Homo sapiens: one gene and its partner. The protein of the gene in region 1 purifies or fractionates together with the protein of each later gene. This does not show direct contact. Each region holds a gene or a part of one and is shown in the gene's direction. Other genes may lie near its edges.

The links.
Region 2: the proteins of ITGA9 (region 1) and EVPL purify together in Homo sapiens (affinity purification with mass spectrometry; 2 studies listed by BioGRID and IntAct, with this or other methods). This does not show direct contact.

What each region holds. Positions count from the first base shown.
Region 1 is NC_000003.12:37,819,141-37,824,037, forward strand, and holds the end of ITGA9 (integrin alpha-9 precursor), read left to right. Parts: 3' UTR 1-4,367; downstream 4,368-4,897. UniProt on the Homo sapiens protein: Integrin alpha-9/beta-1 (ITGA9:ITGB1) is a receptor for VCAM1, cytotactin and osteopontin. It recognizes the sequence A-E-I-D-G-I-E-L in cytotactin. ITGA9:ITGB1 may play a crucial role in SVEP1/polydom-mediated myoblast cell adhesion.
Region 2 is NC_000017.11:76,024,307-76,031,672, reverse strand, and holds the start of EVPL (envoplakin), read left to right. Parts: upstream 1-4,366; 5' UTR 4,367-4,474; coding exon 4,475-4,572; intron 4,573-7,366. UniProt on the Homo sapiens protein: Component of the cornified envelope of keratinocytes. May link the cornified envelope to desmosomes and intermediate filaments.

The sequences.
Region 1 (4,897 bases):
TGAGGCAGCCACTTCGGCCAGGTCACACGACCGGGGCCAGCACCACTTCCTTTAAAGATGAACTCTGAACTTTGGAGAGTGAGCTACAGAGCCGAGCAATATTTATGGATGCAACACGCATGGTCAACCCTCAGGGGAAAACTGTTACCTAAAGTATTTTTATAAATATAAGCCTTTTATACTGATTATGTCTTTTATATTTGTATCGATGTTTTATTATTTCTATTAAATAGTTATATAATTCACTCAAGCACTGATATCTGGCCTAAAATCTTGGAAGTACATGTCCATGAATACAAATTTTAAAGGATGAAAATCTTACCGTACTTTGGAACTTGCTGTTTAAAAAGACAGATGAAATAAGTTGAAGAAACCTCATGTAATGAATCCACCAGGCTGGCAGTGGTGCATATAAACTGTGGGTGTGGCAAGACCCCGAAGACATTTCACATCTTTATCGCCTCGATCAAGTGTGGAGTCACATGCTAATGTGTGCTAAAGAACTGTAAGTGTTTTTTCATATGTACTTTTCATTGGAAGATTCCCAACAAGAATTTGGATGGAAAACCTGATCCCTAGCAAGAAGTCTGCTCTGTATCACCTTTATATAGCAGACATGTCACCCTGCTTCTACACAGATGATGGATGAAAGCTTGGAGCAATGCCATGTGGTCATCTGGTAAACCTCAGAATGGCGTCTCATCCTGGACATCCTGCATCAGAGTTCACACACCACAAGGACTAAATCCTTGTCCCCTAAGCAAAGAATTGGGTCTGAATGCTGTGAGGGATTGCCTTTTTGTGGTAATTTTCATTGAGAGATCTTCATTTCCCCTACCACCCTGGCTGTCCCAGCTAGTGGTGATTGCAGATTCCTTCCCAGAGAGGACATTTAACCGTTTTAAAAAAAATGTCTTAGATTGGGTTCCCAAGAAGCAGTCCCTGAAACAAGGATTTGTGTGCAAGTAACTTATTAAGGAAGTATTCCCAGGGGATACCAGTAAGAGAGTGGGGGAAGCAGGACAAGGAAGGAGACAAAGCCAGGCAAATGTTTGTCATTTCAGGGAGAGCTCCATGAAGTTTAGCCTCAGCCTGATCAGGGGAACTCCGGAGGAAAAGTTAGGCCTCAGAGGTGTCCCAACCTGAATCAAGGGGCTGGCTGCACCCAGAGGAGATGTAAACGTTTTATTCTCAATTCCTGCTGGCGTAATGGCTCCAGTAGCTCAGGACAGTCCTCTAAAGGACAACCACAGATGCATCCTCAGCCAGGGGAGACACAGGGAAATGATGCAAAAGAAATGATGCAAAGGATCTGAGCAGAACACTGCCCCTCCCCACCCCCTGAATGTGTGAGTGCTGAGTTACGGCCTTCAGTATCCAAGCTCTCTGTTTGACAGTAGATATATTGTCAGATGCACTGTGCTGCTTAGTTTTGAGTGCAGTGTGATTTTCTGAAAGGGCAATGAGATGATGGATGTAGCATGCTCAGCACTGACCTGGCCCATAGTGATCACTCAATAACTGTTAACAGCTATGGCTGCTATTCCTACTGATGGATAACCATCTAATAAGACAGAAAACATGGGGCTAAGAGCAGGGTCTAACGGAGTCTTAATGGCTTATTACAGCCTGCCAAAGTGCCAGCTACATACACATGGCATCCAGTGCGGATGAAACAATCTATAAAACCAAGGGTCTTTCTTATAGCACCTTTTTTACTGGAAGCTAACACGTTGGGAGTCCGTGAACATTGTCAAAAAGACATCAAACTCAACTTCTGGGAAGACAGATTTTTAATACACATACTTGGCTAATACTCACAAACATATCTAAAGTTTTGGCAAAATTATGAGGGTGATGGGTGGGTACTAACCTGGCATGGAGCAGGTGTGTCTTTTGGTTTCTTATGCAGTTGACTCTGCTGCAGGGAGATTACAGATGTAACCTCATGCTTCTCTTCCTGGTGAACATGGGAATAGACCAAAAAAATCAAGGGTCAATGGCATGAACTAAGCTGATCCTGGAAATCAGGGATGTTGCATCTAACTGTGGGATGGAGGCACAGAGGTAGCTACAGGGAGCAGGACGAGGCAAAGAAAGCAGCTGTCACTCAGAGTTCGCTTATGAGTTTTATCAAAAGCAGCAAGAAAAGCAGTCTTGGGTGGGTTTTATCACTTATTAACAGCCATTTATGAGGCCCCTGCTGTGTGTCAGGCACTGTGCAAGGTGCTGGAGGTTCCCCAGAGAACACTTCAGGGACATTTTGCCTCAGGGTGGCAAAATGCAGTGGCATGTGGACTTTTTGAATGGGATGCCATTTGCAGCTTTCCTTTGATGGACTCTTGTTCATAATGCCATGTTTTCTTTAATGAATCATTTAGGATTCTTAGGTGATATTTCTGGAACAGCACCATCAACAGCTTTGGCCACATGCACTTAGAGCAACTAACTTGCCTCCTGCCGGGGTGTAGGTGCGTTGGTGACAGTGTAGAAGGGTGATTCGCAGGCCCATGTTCTGCCCACCAGCAAAGCCCCACTGGAGAAGGGTAGACTCCTGTGGGCAGTCTCAGAGCTGGGACCTATTTGCTTCTGCTTGATTCTGCGTGGGTGGACCCACATGAGCAGCTGTATACCCAGGAGGTCACTAAGACTTTATAAAGGCAGGTTTTAAGAAAACCAGCCTTGGCATCACCACCAGCAGATACTGAAAGCCTCCCCAGGAACCTGTCTGGGGAAGGATGATGCCTCTGCTGGTCTGATCGTGCTGAGTAGCAGGTGGGCTACGGGGACTGGGGAGTTAAGCATTTTGTGCAGTGATAGAGAAGTCAAGCATATCGTTAGCGCTCTCTCAACTTGGGCAGTTCACAAGCTCCTTCCCAGCTCAGAAGCCCTCTCTATGCTCTCAGGGGAAGCAGATGGGGTGGATCAGTACATCTGTGTTACCCTTCCAGAATATTATTTGAAAATTCTACAGTATGTTCTACTTTCTCCCCTTCCTGCTTCCATGGTTTCACTGTGGAATCCTATAAGATATTCTCCTGAGCAGTATTATTTCAGTTTCCTTCAGCTTTTAGTTGAATCTTCAATGTGGTTTTAACCAACTGTTCAGAGAACTGAAATGGTTTTTAAATATGAAAAAGGACCTTTGTAAAAATGGAGTAAAACAGTGCCCCTTTTTTAAAAAAAGTTTTGCTTATGCTTAATTTACATAGGACTCAGGAGAGTTTGGAACATCCTCCAAGTGGGCCATAGAGCTGTCACAAAGAAGAGGCCATGATGTTTAGAAACAAGGGGACACTAGCAGGAGGGGCAGGGTCCACTGGCTTAGTGGCAACTGACAGGCATCCATTCCGAATAACTCAGCACTGAGGTTTCCTCAGGCAGTTCTTTAGGAAAACTGTCAGCATCATGGGTACTCAGAGGTATGGTAGACCTTGTAGAAGATCCACTAGGAAGTCCTCCTTCACCAAATCATGTAGCTACTGCCCTTGAGCCAAAGGCAATGAGGTTTAAAACAAAAACCCAACAGCACTCCTGGGAACATCCTGTTTTCCATGCGGAAGCATAGCAGATCCCCAGACGATCCGTGTGCTGTATGCTACCTGTTGAACCCTAGCATGGTGGCTTTTTAAAAGGTTATTTATGACTTTTATTTTTGGGTAAGGCATTATGGCCAGGTGCATGCAGTTATGTCTGGGTTACGTGTGAAACGTACATCTGGTGAACTGTATACTTGGCTCAAACTTCTCAAAATTTAGAGGTGCTGGAAAGGATTGTCACTTGGAGCCTTTAGTAGACAAAAGGCAGAAAGTGAGCATCATTTCAGAAATGCTTTAGTATGCACACTTTTAGCTGATATTTTGATATATAGAATAATAATATACACAGTGGAGAATATTCAAAGAGTGGCTGAAGGGAGAATACAGAGCCAGTAGGGCCAAAATGAAACTTCTAGGATGTCTTCTGAATTTTCAGCACATGGGGGGAATAAGTGAACAAATTTCCCAACATCGTGCAATGCTTTATAGCACAATGATCTAGATTTCAGACTGTGTTAAGGTTTTTTCTTTGTTGATGTTGTTGTTTTAATTCTAATGTGCACGGTGTGACTGGCAGAGTGAGTTTAAAAGCTTTACGAGTGATTAATTGCTTGGCAGGCACCCACGCTATCTGCATTTCCAGAACTTTACTGATGCATCCATGTACATTTCCACTGAGGAATTTTGGTGGGTGGGGGGAGGTTGTGCTGCCTCACAATGTCACGTGTATTAAAGTCTAAGCAGTCACTTCTGATTCACTTGCACTGTTTGGGAAATGTCAGGTTTACAAAAACATACATGTTTGGAATAAAAAATGGCTGCAAACAATTCAGAAGTTCAATCTGTAATTTACTTGCTAATAAGAACTTTTTAAAGTGTTGAAGCTAGGGTTTCAATGTAATACAACATGAGCATTAAAGAGAACATCAAGGTCCATCTAATTCACATGAACAACCCACCTGATGTGGCTGAACTGTCTGCAGTCCTTGGCCTCCACACAAGAGGTACCACCTCCTCTCTGCATCACCCTGACTCCCCTGGCCCAGGGCTACACCTAGGTTCTTGATCTTGAGATAAATGTGCCCAAATTAAATGGTATGGATTCCTTATTATCAGTAGACTTCTTTCACATGTGCCTGCCAGTTACTAAGCATTTTTCCAGAAGCATTTTGATAACATTCTTACACATTTACAAATATTGTATTCTCTTAGGTTTTCACTCTCCTTCATCTGTCTATTAATAGTTATGTTCTTGTTCATATTCCACATGCTGTTCATTTATGTGTTTTTTTTTCCCTAGACAAGACTGTTACCAGATAGGGGTTCCAATCCAGACACCAAGAGCAAGTTCTTGGATC
Region 2 (7,366 bases), on another chromosome or scaffold:
TGGGACCACAGGCACCCGCCACGATGCCTGGCTAATTTTTTTGTTTTTGTAGTTTTAGTAGAGACGGGATTTTGGTTTTTTTTTGAGACGAAGTCTCACTCTGTCACCCACGTCACCCAGGATGGAATGTAGTGGCGCAATTTTGACTCACCTCCACCTACTGGGTTCAAGCAATTCTACTGCCTCAGCCTCCCAGGTAGCTGGGATTACAGGCACCCACCACAACGCCTGGCTAATTTTTGTATTTTTAGTAGAAATGGGGTTTCACCATGTTGGCCAGGCTGGTCTCGAACTCCTGACTTCAAGTGATCCGCCCTCCTCGGCCTCCCAAAGTGCTGGGATTACAAGCGTGAGCCACTGCCCGGCCAAAAAAAAAAAAAAAAAAATATATATATATATATATATATATATATATATTTTTTTTTTTTTTTTTTTTTTTGAGGTGGAGTTTCGCTCTTGTGCAATGGCGCGATCTCGGCTCACCGCAACCTCCACCTCCTGGGTTCAAGCAATTCTCCTGCCTCAGCCTCACAAGTAGCTGGGATTACAGGCATGTGCCACCACGCCCATGCCTGGTTTTGTTATTTTGTATTTTTAGTAGAGACGGGGTTTCTCCATGTTGGTCAGGCTGGTCTCAAACTCCTGACCTCAGGTGATCTGCCCGCCTTGGCCTCCCAAAGTGCTGGGATTACAGGCATGAGCCACCCCACCTCGCCAAAAGAAAGTTTTTTTTAACTGCAAGCAAAGAGACATGGCAGAAGCCAGGGCTTAGGAGGGTTGAAGGTTGGGGCATCCTATCTAACTTCCAGGCCAGAGCTGTCTGAAGGAATCCTGATGAGCCCCAAATGCAAGCTTCATTTGTCACTTTAAATTTATCAGTAGCCACATTTTAAAGAGTAAAAAGCAACAGGTCAAAATTTAAAATATGCCTGTAACCCCGGATCATGAGGTCAGGAGTTCGAGATCAGCCTGACCAACATGGTGAAACCTCATCTCTACTAAAAATACAAAAATTAGCCGGGTGTGGTGGCGCGCGCCTGTAGTCCCAGCTACTCGGGAGGCTGAAGTAGGAGAATCACTTGAACCTGGGAGGTGGAGGTTGCAGTGGGCCGAGATTGTGCCACTGCACTCCAGCCTGGGCGACAGAGCAAGACTCTGTCTCAAAAAGAAAAAAACTAAAACTAAAAATACATTTCATTTAATTCAACATATCCAAAATATTTCAATATGTAATCAATAGAAAAATTAATGAGATGCTTTACATTCTTTTTTTCTTTTTTTTTTTTTTTTTTTAGATCGAGTTTCGCTCTGTCTCCTATGCTGGAGTGCAGTGGCGCGATCTCGGCTCACTGCAATCTCCGCCTCCAAGATTCAAGTGATTCTTCTGCCTCAGCCTCCCGAGTAGCTGGGATTACAGGCACGCGCCACTACGCCCAGCTAATTTTTGTATTTTTAGTAGAGACGAGGTTTCACCATGTTGGTCAGGCTGGTCTTGAACTCCTGACCTCGTGATCCGCCCACCTTGGCCCCCCAAAGTGCTGGGATTACAGGCATGAGCCACCGCAGCTGGTCGTTTTACATTCTTTTTCCATAGTACGTCTTTGAAATCTGGTGTGAATTTTGCACATATAACACATCTCACTTCGGTCCGGGCACCTTCAAATGCGCTACAGCCACACACAGCAGGAGTTGTGGTTGCAGAAACGGACGCTGAGGGTCTTGACCCAGGCAGTCAGCCCCATCTTGACCTTTTAGATAAAGGGCTCCTTTCTCTCCAAAGGGTGAGGCCAGAGGTGAAGCACAAAGACAGCCATGCCTCACTCTGTGTCCCTGTCCTTTCTCCTGTTTTCTTCTGGGGCCAGGGTTGCTGCCATCTGACAGGAGCATCCCACGTGAGAGGACGCCTCAGGACTCAGGGTGTTCCTGCCTGCCGCCTGGCAGCCCTTATCAGAGGAGCGGGGCCTGATTTGATCCAGCATGAGAAGATCACGCCAGGAAGTCAGCTCTTGTTTTTCTTGCAGTAAATCAGTTAGCCCTTAATCTCCGGGGCGTGTGAGGGCCCCCTGCAGTGCTCATTTCCTTCCTGGAGGGCTTCTGAAGAGGGGAGGAAGCTCGAGTGTTCCAGACCTCAGACTCGCTGCCCTCCGCCCAGGGCACCTCCCCCTGCACAGCTCAGGGGCCTCACCCGGCTGCTCTCTGTCTGGAGTCTGGACACCTCTCCCCAGGGCCCCACTTCCAATGACTGCCACCTCCCAGGGAGGGGCCAAGCTCAAAGGTGAAGCAGGCGGGCTCAGTGGCTGATGCCTGTAATCCCAGCACTTTGGGAGGCTGAGGTGGGCGAATCACCTGAGGTCAGGAGTTCGAGACCAGCCTGGCCAACGTGGTGAAACCCTGTCTCTACTAAAAATACAAAAAATTAGTCGCGCGTGGTGGCGGGCGCCTGTAATCCCAGCTACTCGGGAGGCTGAGACAGGAGAATCACTTGAACCTGGGAGGCAGGGGTTGCAGTGAGCCGAGATGGCGCCACTGCACTCCAGCCTGGGAGACAGAGCGAGACTCAGTCTCAAAAAAAAAAGAAAGAAAAGAAAAAGGCGAGTCAGGGAGGCCAGGGGTGAGGCTGGCGTTGGCCCCCGTAGTCATTCACACAAACGGCTCCTTTCTGAAGACAGCTGATTGCAGGTGTGCAATGAGTGGCTAGAAGACAAGTGTCACCAGGAATAAAGTGGGAGCAGGCTGGGGCAGAGGCTGAGTGGCCAGTCATCCCTGGTGCCATCTCACTCAAGACACGGGCTGGGAGCCAAGGACACTGGAGACCTCTTTGTTTCCTCATTGCTGTCAGGGGCTGCCACTGCCCTCCCCACCCCTACTGCCCCTGTCAGCTCCTCCACCTCTAGGAATGGGGGTGTCCTGCATCCCCTCTCCACGGCCGAGTTCAGGGACTTCCCATGAAATTCAGCCAAAAAGGGCGCAGGACTTTTCTATCCCATGGGGGCCTGAGGCCAGTATCAGGCGTCGGTCCCTGGTCTCCCCCGTCTGCTGGGATCTTTCTCTCCTGCCAGGCTGTGCTTTGTCCTCAGCGAGGCCTGCCAGGATGTCCAGGTGATGTCACCCAGTCAGTCTGTTCCATCCCCTGGCTCCCCCTCAAGCCCTCCTTCCACTAAAACCACGGGGGTTTCAGGAATGACCTGGAAAGCGACGCCACCCCGCAGAAGGGGCCTGTTACGCTGGGCCAGTGAAATGAGCGCCTGGAAAGGGGGGTGCCATCGCCTCTTTCTTGAAGACGCTCAGGGCCACCACAGAAGGAAAAGGCAGCAGCCCTGGTACCCAGTGTGAGGAAAAGACCAATAAGCTGGCATCACTGTCTGCCACTCAATCTGACTTCATAAAAGCCACCAGGGGCCATTTCTGGGTGGGGGAAGAGGCAGGTAGGAAAAGCCAAGTGCATCAGGCTCCCGGGCCTCAGCCAGAGCCCAGGCTTACTGGCGCCTGAAGCCAGCCCTGGTGCTGCTGCACTGTGCACACTTTATAAAATGGGGCCAGGCGTGGTGGCTCATGCCTGTGATCCCAGCATTTTGGGAGGCCGAGGCGGGTGGATCACTTGAGGTCAGGAGTTCGAGACCAGCCTGGCCAACATGGTGAAGCCCCTTCTCTGCTAAAAATACAAAAATTTTCTGGGCGTGGTGACGGGCACCTGTAATCCCAGCTACTCAGGAGGCTGAGGCAGGAGAATCGCTTGAACCCGGGAGGTAGAGGTTGCAGTGAGCCGAGATCATGCCATTGCACTCCAGCCTGGGTGACAGAGCGAGACTTTGTCTCTTAAAAAAAAAAAAAATGGACCTTGTGCCAGTTGTCTGGAGTGAACGTCCCCTGACTGCCCCATCATGTCAGTGGAGAACAGAGAGTCAGGCCCTGGGCTGGCAGGACACCCCCTCCTCTCCTGGGGGATTGAGAGCTGTGGGTGGGGGCCTGCCTGGCAGCAGGTCCTCTGAGCTGGCTGGAGGTGTTTATTAATCCTGAGCTCCGGGGCTGGGGCCTCTCCGCTGAGCCTGCACCTGCATGTGCACGTCTGTCTCCAGCCCTGTCTGTCCTGGCCCAACTCCTTCCCTATCTGGGTGTGATCGCCGCTGCGCTCCCCTAGGCATGTGGGTGTAACAAGTCCAAACCTTCTGTGGGAGTCGGGCAGGCTCGGCCCCGCCCTCAGGGCTGTGCCCTTTCCTCCCAGACTGGTTGTGCAGGAGGAGGCATGAGTGTGGCCGTTGTGGGTGCATGCGCGTCAGGCCTGGGACCCGGCCGCCCGCCCGCTGCCTCACCTGCAAGGAGGGGCCTCCCAGAAACTCCCTTCCCCAGTGCCCAGCCGCCCCACCTCGCCAGACTTAGCTGACCAGCCAGTGAGGACGCCCGCTGCCTCCCACCTGCCCTCCTGCCGTCTTTCGCCAGCCAAGCCCAGCCTGAGCCAGCACTTGCCTTTACGACCATGTTCAAGGGGCTGAGCAAAGGCTCCCAGGGGAAGGGGTCCCCCAAGGGCTCCCCCGCCAAGGGGTCCCCCAAAGGCTCCCCCAGCAGGCACAGCCGGTAAGTGGGACTGGGGGATGGGGAGCCGGGGAACTGGGGTGGGGGTGGTGCCAGGCCCAGGTCCTTGAGCCACCTGGCGGCGGCGGCGGCCCAGAGCCCAGGACCAGCCCCGTGCTGGCATTTGGTGTCCTGAGGCCAAAGGGCCCAGGGATGGACTCTCTCCCTGCCTTGGGAGCCGCAGGCCCAGGCCGAACTTCAGCCCTGGCAGGAGGCAGGGGATGACCTGGGGCTCCCTACATCCTCTAAGGGGGCCTGAGGGCCACGGATTGAGGCCGCTTCGCGGGAGAAGTGCTGGACAGGAGCCTGCACGGAGGCCCTCCTCTGCCAGAGGCTGGGAGACAGGAGAGCCTGGGAGACAGGAGAGCCTGGGAGACAGGAGAGCCTGGCTGCCTGACTGCAGCTCTGCCCCAAGGCTCTACTTGGCTGGGATGACCCCTGGAGCCTGGGTACAGGGCATGAGGACTGAGGGGACGGGGTGGGATCCCTGGGGTAGGGATGCAGGGGCTGTGCTGCCTCCTGCCTAAGCCACAGCCCTCCCCAGAGTTCTCACCCAGGGCCTTGTTGTATTGAAGAGTTAGGGGTTCATGGCCGGGCGCCGTGGCTCACGCCTATAATCCCCGAACTTCAGGAGGCCAATGCGGGAGGATTCCTTGAGCCCAGGAGCTCGAGACCAGCCTGGACAACATAGGGAGATCTTGTTTCTGTAAAAAAATAAAAATAAAAAATAGCCAGGCATGGTGGCTCGTGCCTATTGCTTGAGCCCAGGAGTTTGAGGCTGCAGTGAGCCATGATCACACCCCTGCGCTCCCGCCTGGGTGACAGACTGAGACTCTGTCTTAAAAAAAAAAAAAAAAAAAATCCTGGCGCAATACCTCACGCCTGCAATCCTACAACTTTGGGAGGCCGAGGCGGGTAGATCACTTGAGCCCGGGAGTTCGAGACCAGCCTGGGCAACATGATGAAATCCCGTCTCTACAAAAAATATACAAAAATTATCTGGATGTAGTGGCGCATGCCTGTAGTCAGAGCTACTTGGGAGGCTGAGGTGAGAGGATCACTTGAGCCCGGGAAGTCGAGGCTGCAGTGAGCCGTGATCACTCCACTGCCCTCTAGCCTGGGTGACAGAGCAAGACCCTGTCTGTTAAAACAAAATAGAGCTGGGGCTTCCTTTTCCAGTGGGTGTGGTGCAGGGGGCACTGGGCCTCCCTTGGACCACCCGGCTCTCTGGAGCCCAGCCTCAGCAATCTGTGGATGGATTGGGCGGTGTTCTTCCCACTCACTGGCTTCAGCTCGTCTGCAGAGGAGGCAGCAGCCCGCCTGGGTCCAGGGTGTCGAGATGACCTCAGGGATGAAAGGCTGGTGTGGGAGTGGGGGTGCCCATTACCCCGATAGGGATCAAGGCACCAACAGACACCGAGGCTGGGTGTCTGGGCGGACGGGAAAGACAGTGGTTAAGACTCTCAGCTAACACTCTCGCTGAGTGACCTGTCCTCCCTGGGGCACCTGAGCCCCACCCAGGGTGGAGTGTGCAGCTCCCGGTGGGAGCAGCCATCCCAGGAGGCGGGACCTGAGGAGGGGCGCCCAGGGCCCAGCACCTGCAGCTCCCACTGTCCAGGCAGGCTCCCCAGCAGTGCGCTCCTGGCCTGGGGCAGCTCCGTCCTCAGGGCCCTGTTGGCTCTCCCCTCACGTGCGATCCACTCGTTTGACATGAACTTACTGAGCACTTACTGTATGCCAGGACTGTTCTAGGCACTGGAGATGTCACTGTAGACAGAACCAACAAGCCCCTGCCTTCAAGGCACTAGCCCTCTAATGGGATAAAAACTAACACGTGCTGGGTGCCGACCCTGCACCAGGCCTGCACTGGACGTTTCAGATGGATAAATTCAATTAATGCTCACAATAGCCCTAAGGCATAGATATTTTTATTAAAATCCCGCTTTACAAGTGAGGAACCTCAGGCACAGAGAGGTTGAGTAACTTGACCAAGGTCAAGTCCATCATCTTTCTGATGGAGAAAGATGAAACCAGGGTGTCTTGGCCACAGAGTTCTTCCAGACTGCTGTGCCTTCACCAGCACTGTCCCTTTGCCTGGGGGGGCCCATCCTTTGACCCAGTTCAAGGCTTCTCCTGCCCCAGCATAATGATCCCCCATAAGGCACTGTGCTCATAAGGCTTGGACCAATCTGCCCTCTTTTAGGTCTGCTTGACCTTGTGACCTCCGCACAGTGAGTGCATGCACACAGCAGGTGCTCTATGGAGGCTGCAGGGCGAATGCACAGAAAAAGCCCTGGGGTGGAAGCAAGGTTTCCCCTCCACCCCTGACCATGTGACTCAGAGCAAGTCAGAGCCCAATCTGGGCTTTGAACCCTCAACTCTGGAGAATGTTAGGGTGCCCAGTAGTCTCTTGCGCCTGCCCCACCTCCCCGGCTCCGACAGTGTGAGGCTCCTCTAGATGGCTACTGAAGCCAGCATGCTGGCAAGGCTCCCTGGGGTGGAGGAGGTATAGGGGAACACAGGGCTGGAGTGCGAGGAGGTGGGGATGGGGGACATGCTGCTGCCTCCCTGCCCCAGCCAGCCCAACTACCCCTCCCAGGGCCCAGCCAGGCTGGCTCAGGTGCTAGTGGCTGAGCCGGTGATTCACTGGCTCGGGGAGGGAAGTGGCAGGTAGCTAGGTGGGGTCGGGAACTCACTGCCAGCACAGCTGGCTAAGGCTGGGACACCGAGGCCGCCTGCCCCCTCCCCAGCACCACACAAACCTGAGACCCTCACCTTTTGACCCCTCATGTGGCGG